Linked DNA regions of Homo sapiens. The protein of the gene in region 1 interacts with the protein of each later gene in a pairwise test. Each region holds a gene or a part of one and is shown on either strand. Other genes may lie near its edges.

Evidence for each region.
Region 2: the proteins of TIMMDC1 (region 1) and CYP4F12 interact in binary tests that used the Homo sapiens proteins (3 or more experiments, as listed by UniProt).

The regions. Positions count from the first base shown.
Region 1 is NC_000003.12:119,517,735-119,523,098, reverse strand, and holds part of TIMMDC1 (complex I assembly factor TIMMDC1, mitochondrial isoform 1 precursor), read right to left. Parts: intron 1-5,364.
Region 2 is NC_000019.10:15,692,656-15,698,019, reverse strand, and holds the end of CYP4F12 (cytochrome P450 4F12), read right to left. Parts: intron 2,085-5,364; coding exon 1,951-2,084; intron 1,860-1,950; coding exon 1,795-1,859; exon of another isoform or gene 1,591-1,794; coding exon 1,508-1,590; intron 1,113-1,507; coding exon 935-1,112; 3' UTR 846-934; downstream 1-845. UniProt on the Homo sapiens protein: A cytochrome P450 monooxygenase involved in the metabolism of endogenous polyunsaturated fatty acids (PUFAs).

The DNA of each region.
Region 1 (5,364 bases):
CCAAATAATAGATCAGTTCTGTTTCTAAATCAAGTATTAGTGTCTTCCTTAAGTGATTATCGGGATTAAAGTTTCTTCTCAACTCTTCACAGATTTGGTCATTTGTTCTTCTATATCTCTATAGTCAGTTTTCTACATTTTCTGCTCATTGAGGCAATTTTTTTGACTCTCAATTTGTTTGATTTTCCTGTATTATTTTCAAGCGAAGAAGTAGGCACATACAAGACACTTAAACGTTTATTAACTCTCCTTAGAAATATCTCACACACACACACACACACACACACACACACAAACACCCATACGTGTATATGCTATACAATTTTGACACTTTCATTCTGCCAAAGTATTCTTTCATTACTATGATTCAAGTTGTTTTTATCCATCTGTCTTAAAATTGATACTAATAATTGTACATATTTATGAAGTACAAAGTGATATTTTTGTACATATACAATGTGTAATGATCAAATCAGGGTAATTAGCATATGCATCACCTCAAACATTTATCATTTCATACTGCTGGGACCATTCAAATATCCTCTCTTCCAGCTACTTGAAAATATACAATAAATTATTAACTATAGTCATCCTACAGTGCCACAGAACACTAGAATTTATGCCTCCGATCTAGTTATAATTTTGTATTCATTAATCAATCCCTTAAATCTCCTCTTCTTATGCCTTTCCCTGTCCCCTCCTCAGCCTCCAGTAACCATAATTCTACTCTTTACTTCTATGAGCCCATTTTTTAGCTCCCACATGAGCAACAGAACATGCAGTATTTATCTTTCTGTGTATGACTTATTTTACATAACAATGTCCTCCAGGCTCATCCATGTTCCCACAAATGACAGGATTACATTCTTTATTATGGCTGAATAGTATTCTATGGTGGATATATACCACATTTTCTTTATCCATCCATCTGTTGATGGACACTGACGTTGATTCCATACCTTGGCTATTAATAGTGCTACAATAAGCATGGGGGCGCAGATAACTCTTTGATATGCTGGTTTCTTTTCCTTTGGATAAATACCTAGTAGGGAAGATTGCTGGATCTTACAGTAGTTCTATTTTTAGTTTTCTGAGGAACTTCCATACTGTTTCTATAAAGGCTGTAATAATTTGCATTCCTACCAAAAGTATATGAGTTCCCTTTTCTTTCTACATCCTTGCCAAAATTTATTTTTTGTCTTTCTGATAATAGACATTCTAATTGGGATAAATATCACTCCAATTTCCCAAACTGTCCCCAAACCACATTTCATTGTGGTTTTGATTTGCATTTCCCTGATTAGTTATGTTGAATACTTTTTCATATACTTGTTAGCACTTGTAGGTATTTTTTGAGAAATACAAGTTTCCCCCCAAGCTCCCCCGCCCACTTTTTTTTTTTTAAAGAGACAGGGACTCACTTTGTTGCCCAGGCTGGAGTGCAGTAGCACAATCATGGCTCACTGCTGCCTTGAATTACTGGGCTCAAGGGATCCTTCAGCCTCAGTCTCCCAAGTAACTGGGGCTATAGGCATGCACTACTGTGCCTAATTTTCTTTTGTCTCATGCTGTCACTCAGGCTGGAGTGCAGTGGCACCATCTTGGTTCATTGCAACCTCCACCTCCCAGGCTCAAACAATCCTCCTGCCTCAGCCTCCCACGCAGTTGGGATTACAGGTGTGCACCATGACAATTTTTGTATTTTTAGTAGAAATGGGGTTTCACCATGTCGGTCAGGCTGGTCTCGAACTCCTGACCTCAAGTGATCCGCCTGCCTCGGCCTCCCAAAGTCCTGGAATTACAAGTGTGAGCCACCGTGCCTGGCCTCCAATGCCCTTTATTTCTTTTTCTTGCCTAACTGCTCTGGCTAGGATTTCTAATACTATGTTGAACAAGACTGGTAAGAGTGGGCATTCCTATTTCATTCCAGTTCTTTGAGGGAAAAGCTTTTCACTTTTCCCTGTTCAGTATGATATTAGCTGTGAGTTTGACATATATGGCCTTTACTGTACTGAGAAATAGTCCTTCTACCCCTAACTTTTTGGGAGGTGTTACCATGAAGGGGTGTTCAATTTTACCAAATGCTTTTTCTCATTTACTGAGATGATCATATGGTTTTTTTCCTTCCTTCTGTTTATATGATGTAACACATTTATTGATTTGTGTATGCTGCACCATCCTTGCATCCCTAGGATAAATCCCACTTGTTCATGATGTATAATCTTTTTGATGTACTCTTGGATTTGGTTTGCTGGTATTTTGTTAAGGATTGTTTTGTAGAATACATTGGCCTGTAGGTTTTGTTGTTGTTGTTGTTTAATGAGCCTTTGTCTGTTTGTTGTTGTATAAGGGTAATGCTAGCCTTGTAGAATGAGTTTGGAAGAACTCTCTCATCTTCAATATTTCGGAACAGTTTGAGAATTGGTCTTAATTCTTCTTTAACTGTTTGGCAGAATTTAGCAATGAAGCCATGTGGTCCTGGACATTTCTTTGTTGGGAGACTTTTTATTACCAGTTCAATCTTGTTACTTGTTATTGGTCTGTTCAAGTTTTCTATTACTTCTTGGCTCAATCTCGATAGATTATAGGGGCTCAGGAATGTATCCATTTCCTGTAGCTTTTCCAATTTCTTGGCATACAGTTGTTTCATAATAATCTCTAATGATATGACTATGTCCGTGGTATCAGTTGTAATGTCTCCTTTTTTGTTTTTTACCTTAATTGGGTCTTTTTTCTAACTTGTGGTTTCTTGATTTTGTTTTCAAGAAACCAACTTTTCATTTAGTTCTTCTTTTGTGTTTTTTTGTTTGTTTTTAAGTCTCTATTTCACTTAGCTCTGCTCTGATCTTTTTATTTATTTCCTTCTGATTTTGGGTTTAGTTTGTTCTTGCTTTTCGAGTTCCCTGAGGTGCAGTGTTAGGTTGTTTATTTGAAACATTTCTACTTTTTGATGGAGGCATTTATTGCTATAAACTTCCCTGTTAGTGATGCTTTTGCTGTATCCCATAGGTTTTGGTATGTTGTGTTTCTGTTTTCATTTGTTTCAAGAAATTTTTAAATTTCCTTCTTAATTTTTTCATTGACCTATTGGTTGTTCCAGAGCATATTATTTAATTTCTGTGTATTTGCACAGTTTCCAAAGTCCTTCCTGTTACTGATTTCTAGTTTTATTCTGCTGTGGTCTGAAAAAATATTTGATGTTATTTTGATCTTTAAAAATTTGTTGAGACTTGTTTTGTAGCCTAACATATGGTTTATCCTGAAGAACACTTCAAGATAAGAAAAACGTGTATTTTGCAGCTGTTGGATGTGATGTTCTGTAAATGTCTGCTAGATCCATTTGATCTACAGTACAGTTTAAGTCTGATATTTCTTTGTTGATTTTCTGTCTAGATGATCTGTCCAGTGCTGGGAGTGTGGTGTTGAAGTCCCCAGCTATTATTACATTAGGGTTTATCTCTCCCTTTAGCTCTAATATTATTTGTTTAGATATATATATATATGGATGCTCTGGTGTTGGGTGCATATATATTTACAGTTGTTATTTCCTCTTGCTGAATTGATCTCTTTACCATTATATAATGACCTTGTCTCTTTTTATAGTTTTTTATTTAAAGCCTATTTTATCTAGCATAAGTATAGCTATTCCTGCTCATTTATGGTTTCCATTTGCATGAACATCCTTTTCTATCCCTTTACTTTCAGCCTATCTGTATCTTTACAGGTGAAGTGAGTTTCTTGTAGTCAGTATATATAGTTGAGTCTTTAAACTTTTTTTTATTCATTCAGCCACTCTAAATCTTTAATTGGGGAATTTAAAGTGTTTATATTCAACATTGTTATTGATAGGTGTGGATTTACTCCTGTCATTTTGTTAACTGTTTCCTGGTTGTTTTGTATAATCTTTGTTCCCCTTTCTTCCCCTCTTATTTTCATGGTTGGTAGATTTTTGTAATTATAAGGTTTGATTCCTTTCTGTATCTGCTCTACCAGTGAGTTTTATTCTTTCACGTTTCCATAATGGTAGTTACCGTGCTTTTGCATTCAGATGTAGGAGTTCTTTAAGCATTTCTTATAAGGCAGTCTAGTGGTGATAAATTCCCTCAGTGTTTGCCTGTCTTGAGAAGACTATTTCTCCTTCATTTTGGAAAAATAGCTTTGCTAGGTATAATACTCTTGGCAGGAGTTTTTTGGGTTTTGTTTGTCTGTTTGTTTGTTTTTTCCTTTTAGCACTTGGAATGTATCATCCCATTCTCTCCTGACTTGTAAGGTTTCTGCTGGCAAATCTGCTGTTAAACTGATGGGGGGAGGTAAATGGTGGCAGTGGACCCTGGATGAGCCAGTCTTCAGGGGGTGCACGTGGCAGCTCAGCCACTAGAATTGGCAGGGTTGCCAGTGGTGGAAGACTCCAGGTGAATGACCTTAGAATGGCCATAGCCAGCCATTCTTAAGCTTTTCCATCTCAAAATCACTGATCTCTAAATCACTGACAAACTTCTGCAGTTTTTAATGTTTCATTTACTTTTTTAATTTTTTTTTTTTTTTGAGATGAAGTATTGCTCTGTGGCCCAGGCTGGAGTGCAGTGGCGCAATCTCAGCTCACTGCAACCTCAATGCTTTTCTTCTCATATAGCACTTAAGTCCTTGGATGATGGACCTACAGCTCTTAAGAATTTCCGTGTGTGTGTCTGTGTGTGTGTGGTTAGCAGAAATGGAGGTTTCAAATGAAAACACTGGAAAAAAATGATTTCTCATCTATCCAATTATAATACCAAAACAGCAACAGCAGCAGCAGCCAATGCTGTCTTAGGTACCCAGGAAGGTGAACTAGTGAAAATCATTTGTACTCAGGAGCACTAGATGGCAGCCTGTTATATTCATCTTACATATTGAATCTGTGCAAAGTCAGCTATCAGTCTGATTGCCCTATCCCACAAATTGCATCCCAGGAGATGATTAGATGCAATAGGTGAAAGTTTTCATGTTCCTCAGTGGCATTCAGTGCATGAACAACCATTGTCCACCTAATTCCTCTGCATCTACAGCAAGAAATAGAATTTTTGTGGAGACTTAACATGCTGTGTCTTACTTACATATGTATGCAAAAAAAAAAAAAAAAGTCACTTTTTTTCTTTTTTGAGACCGAGTCTTGCTCTGTGGCCCAGGCTGGAGCACAATCACGGCTCACTGTAACCTCCGCTACCCAGGTTCAAGTGATTCTCCTGCCTCAGCCTCCTTGAGTAGCTGGGACTACAGGCACGTGCCACCATGCCCAGCTAATTTTTGTACTTTTAGTAGAAATGGGGTTTTGCCATGTTGGCCAGGCTGGTCTCGAACTCCTGACCTCAGGTGATCCACCTGTCT
Region 2 (5,364 bases), on another chromosome or scaffold:
GTTGTTGCCCACATTATATGTTTGAGGAAACTGAAGTGCATAGAGGGGAATTAACTTACTCAAGTCACACAGCAAAGATGAGACTTCAGCCCAACAGTCTGGCTCCAGATCCCATACCTTTGGGATGGTGTTCTGTTTCCAGTCATCTGTCTTTGAATCTCAAGGGTCAAACAGGATGTTCCTGACTGCACCCCACCCCAAGATGGGTCAGTGATGGGAATGAAGGAGGAATCTAGAGGTGAAAGGGTGAAGACGTGCCCAACCCCTGACACTTGTGAGAGTGCCTGGCACATAGCAGAAGAGAGTAGGGGGAGGATTCAGATAGCAGCTGATGGACAAGCAGCCTGGGCAGAGTCAGAGGGCTCAAAAGAGGAAAAATAGGAGCTGCCTGAAGTTAGGGAAAGGGGTCACAAAAGCGATCAACTGGAAGGGGGAGACATAGGGTGGGACATTAGCAAGAAAGGAAACAGAACTCCTGAGAGCCTGCCAGGGTATAAGCTGCACCCTTCTATCCTTGTGTTCTGAACTGGCCAGGGACCTCGGTCTTGGGACACTCCCAGACCAAAAGAAAGGATCTGCCCCTATGGTTGCTTCTCACTTAGCCTCAGTCGTACCTCTTAAATCCGTTCTTAATCCTGGTCCCTCTCCTGCTCAAAAACCTCCCATGGCTCCACATTGTCCACAGGATAAAGTCCATACTTGGGCTCTGAGAGACCCTGCTATAAGCATGGAGGCCCTATGCTCAGCCAAAGAGGCAGTCAGGTTCTTGGTTTCAGGGAAAACATCCCGCCTAACCCACCCAGGTTAGGCCCCTTCCCTGAAGCCTCCCAGTCCCCAAGAGCCCCCTGCAGGCTGTCAGTGAGGCCCAGGCAGAGGTGACAGCACCGTTTTATTCATGACAATCTGCAAAAAAACAGGTGGATGGGTCAGAAAGTCACTGCAAGCTTACATTCAGGGGCTCCACCCGCAGCCAAAGCCCGCCCTCGGCGCGCATGATCAATTCCAGCTTCCTGCGGGGCTCAGTGTGGTCTGGCAGGAACCGGAAGTGCAGCAGCATCAACGCCAGGACCACTTTCATCTCCGCCATGGCGAACGCCTGCCCGATGCAGTTCCTGCAGGCGGGAGTGGGGACTGTGACTGTGCCCAAGACCCGCATTTGGGTCCCATCAACCCAGGAACCTGGCCTGGGACCCCCAACTGCACCCAGCTCAGCCTGAGAGAGAGAGAGAAAGACTAAGCGTGCCTGGGACTCCCATGTGGGCTTGTATGTCCCGGAGACTGGGCCTGACTCCAGCTCCCAGCTCAGACCAGCAGATGGAGAAGGGGATTTTGAGCACTCCGCGGACCCCTCTAGGACCTACTCATCCCCATTCTATGGACGTTTTCCCATAAACTGTGAAGGAATGGAGGGAAGGAGAGCTGGAACTGGGACCATCTGCAACGTCCCCCTTTTTTTAACTCCCGCACCCATCATCCCATCCCTGCCTCAGACACAGGGCGCTCTTACCTGGGCCCTGCGGAGAAAGGAATAAAAGCCAGAGGTGACCTCCCCTTGCTGTTCTCTGGGTCAAAGCGGAAGGGGTCGTAGACCTGCAGGTGAGACAAAGAAGGTTTGCCAGTGGGATTTCCTATGTCCAGCAGCCTTGGAGAGACACTTGTGTGTGTTTTGGGGTGAGGTGATGTTGGATTTTCCTCATCAAAACCCTGCCCCCTCCACTAGGAACCTTGGAATTCACACACACACACACAAAAGTAGAGGATGGGGGTGGTGGTGGTGAATGGGGAAGGCAGCACCTCAGGATCCGGCCACACAGTTGGGTTGTGATGGACCCCTATAATATCGATGAGGCAGGTAATGCCTGTGGGAGAGAAAGGGGCAGTCAGGACAAGGATCCCCTGAGGGAACCATCTTCCTACCCGGGAGGCTTCTCCCCCTGAGGCTGTGGGCACCTTTGGGGATGACTCGGCCATCTGGGAGAACAATGTCCTGGGTGCAGCATCGGGAGATGAAGGGAGCTGGGGGATGTAACCTCAGGCTCTCCTTCACGCACATGGTCAGGAAGGGCAGCTGGGCCAGGTCGTCCCTAAGGAAACACCCCAGCCCCAGTCATTATCAAGGGAACAAATACACAACTCTCCACCTTTTCTATTTGCAAATGAGACCTTTTCTCCCTATCACAAAATAAACTCCACGGGGATCAAACATTTGAGAATTTTAAAAAGCAGAAAACAATTAGAGAAGCAGAGAATTAGAAAAGTACCAGAGAAAATTTAGCCAAATAGATAAAAATAAATACTCTGAGGAAAACACCCAGAAGCCAGCGGTAAAAAATTAACAAACTCACATAAAAATAAATATTGTCTATGGCAAGAAAGCAAACTCAAATGCAAATGAATAACAAACAAAATACCCAGATCCAATGTTTTGCTCTTATTTAGCGTGATGCTAGAGATACCAGCAAGTGCAATTAGGCAAGGGAAAAAAGGAGAGTCATGCAATTTGTTTTTTTTTTTTTATTATTATTATACTTTTAGGGTACATGTGCACAATGTGCAGGTTAGTTACATATGTATACATGTGCCATGCTGGTGTGCTGCACCCATTAACTCATCATTTAGCATTAGTTATATCTCCTAATGCTATCCCTTCCCCCTCCCCCCACCCCACAACAGTCCCCAGAGTGTGATGTTCCCCTTCCTGTGTCCATGTGTTCTCATTGTTCAATTCCCACCTATGAGTGAGAACATGCGGTGTTTGGTTTTTTTGTCTTTGCGATAGTTTACTGAGAATGATGATTTCCAATTTCATCCATGTCCCTACAAGGGACATGAACTCATCATTTTTTATGGCTGCATAGTATTCCATGGTGTATATGTGCCACATTTTCTTAATCCAGTCTATCATTGTTGGACATTTGGGTTGGTTCCAAGTCTTTGCTGTTGTGAATAGTGCCGCAATAAACATACATGTGCATGTGTCTTTATAGCCGCATGATTTATAGTCCTTTGGGTATATACCCAGTAATGGGATGGCTGGGTCAAATGGTATTTCTAGTTCTAGATCCCTGAGGAATCGCCACACTGACTTCCACCATGGTTGAACTAGTTTACAGTCCCACCAACAGTGTAAAAGTGTTCCTATTTCTCCACATCCTGTCCAGCACCTGTTGTTTCCTGACTTTTTAATGATTGCCATTCTAACTGGTGTGAGATGGTATCTCATTGTGGTTTTGATTTGCATTTCTTTGATGGCCAGTGATGGTGAGCATTTTTTCATGTGTTTTTTGGCTGCATAAAGTGTTGGAAGTTCTGGCCAGGGCAATTAGGCAGGAGAAGGAAATAAAGGTTATTCAATTAGGAAAAGAAGACGTCAAATTGTCCCTGTTTGCAGATGACATGATTGTATATCTAGAAAACCCCATTGTCTCAGCCCAAAATCTCCTTAAGCTGATAAGCAACTTCAGCAAAGTCTCAGGATACAAAATCAATGGACAAAAATCACAAGCATTCTTATACACCAATAACAGACAAACAGAGAGCCAAATCATGAGTGAACTCCCATTCACAACTGCTTCAAAGAGAAGAAAATACCTAGGAATCCAACTTACAAGGGACGTGAAGGACCTCTTCAAGGAGAACTACAAACCACTGCTCAATGAAATAAAAGAGGGTGCAAAGAAAGGGAAGAACATTCCATGCTCATGGGTAGGAAGAATCAATATCATGAAAATGGCCATACTGCCCAAGATAATTTATAGATTCAATGCCATCCCCATCAAGCTACCAATGACTTTCTTCACAGAATTGGAAAAAACTACTTTAAAGTTCATATGGCACCAAAAAGGAGCCCGCATCGCCAAGTCAATCCTAAGCCAAAAGAACAAAGCTGGAGGCATCATGCTACTTGACTTCAAACTATACTACAAGGCTACAGTAACCAAAACAGCATGGTACTGGTACCAAAACAGAGATCTAGATCAATGGAACAGAACAGAGCCCTCAGAGTTAATGCCACATGTCTACAACTATCTGATCTTTGACAAACCTGAGAAAAACAAGCAATGGGGAAAGGATTCCCTGTTTAATAAATGGTGCTGGGAAAACTGGCTAGCCATATGTAGAAAGCTGAAACTAGATCCCTTCCTTACACCTTATACAAAAATTAATTCAAGATGGAATAAAGACTTAAACGTTAGACCTAAAACCATAAAAACCCTAGAAGAAAACCGAGGCATTACCATTCAAGACATAGACATGGGCAAGGACTTCATGTCTAAAACACCAAAAGCAATGGCAACAAAAGCCAAAATTGACAAATGGGATCTAATTAAACTAAAGAGCTTCTGCACAGCAAAAGAAACTACCATCAGAGTGAACAGGCAACGTACAAAATGGGAGAAAATTTTCGCAACCTACTCATCTGACAGAGGGCTAATATCCAGAATCTACAATGAAGTCAAACAAATTTACAAGAAAAAAACAACTCCATCAAAAAGTGGGCGAAGGACATGAACAGACACTTCTCAAAAGAAGACATTTATGCAGCCAAAAAAACACGAGAGTCAGGCAATTTGAAATGTGGTAGTAAATGTATCATTTTGGCAGATAGTGATTTTATACTTAGAAAACACTAGAGGCCCCACTGGAAAACGTTTATAAACATTTAAGATCAAGCAAAGGAGCTGAATTCTCTGCTTAATCTTTCTTCTTTTGCAGTGGCTATTTAAAATTTTCATACCGTCTACAATTATCTGGTTCAGAATTTGAAAACTATAAAACATAATTCACTCCTATGGCCCAATGCCATTTACTTCTCCCCACACGTTGCCAGGTTATTATTTTTTTTAATGTATGCTTTCTGGGCTGATTTTAAGCATCTTAAAAAATTATATAGGAGCACACCATCTACTGTAGACACTATTCTGTATCTTTTTTGATGGGGGGAGGGAATGGAGTCTCTGTTGCTCAGGCTGGAGTGCAGTGACACAATCTTGTCTCACTGCAACCTCCACCTCCCTGGTTCAAGTGATTCTACTGCCTCAGCCTCCCAAGTAGCTGGGACTACAGGCATTCACCACAACAGCCAGCTAATTTTTTTTTTTATTTTTAGTAGAGATGGAGTTTCCCCAATTTGGCAAGGCTGGTCTTGAACTCCTGATCTCAAGTGATCTGCCCACCTTGGCCTCACAAAGTACTGGGATTACAGTCATGAACCACCGTGGCTGGCGTGTATCTTTTCTCTCATTTAACAGTTTATCACTTTTTCATAGCCCCTGGGACTTACGTCAAAATAAGGTTATCCCTACTCTGGCGCTATGAAATAATTTTCTCATGGTTCCTTCTAGAGCTTTTAGGACTCTTTTA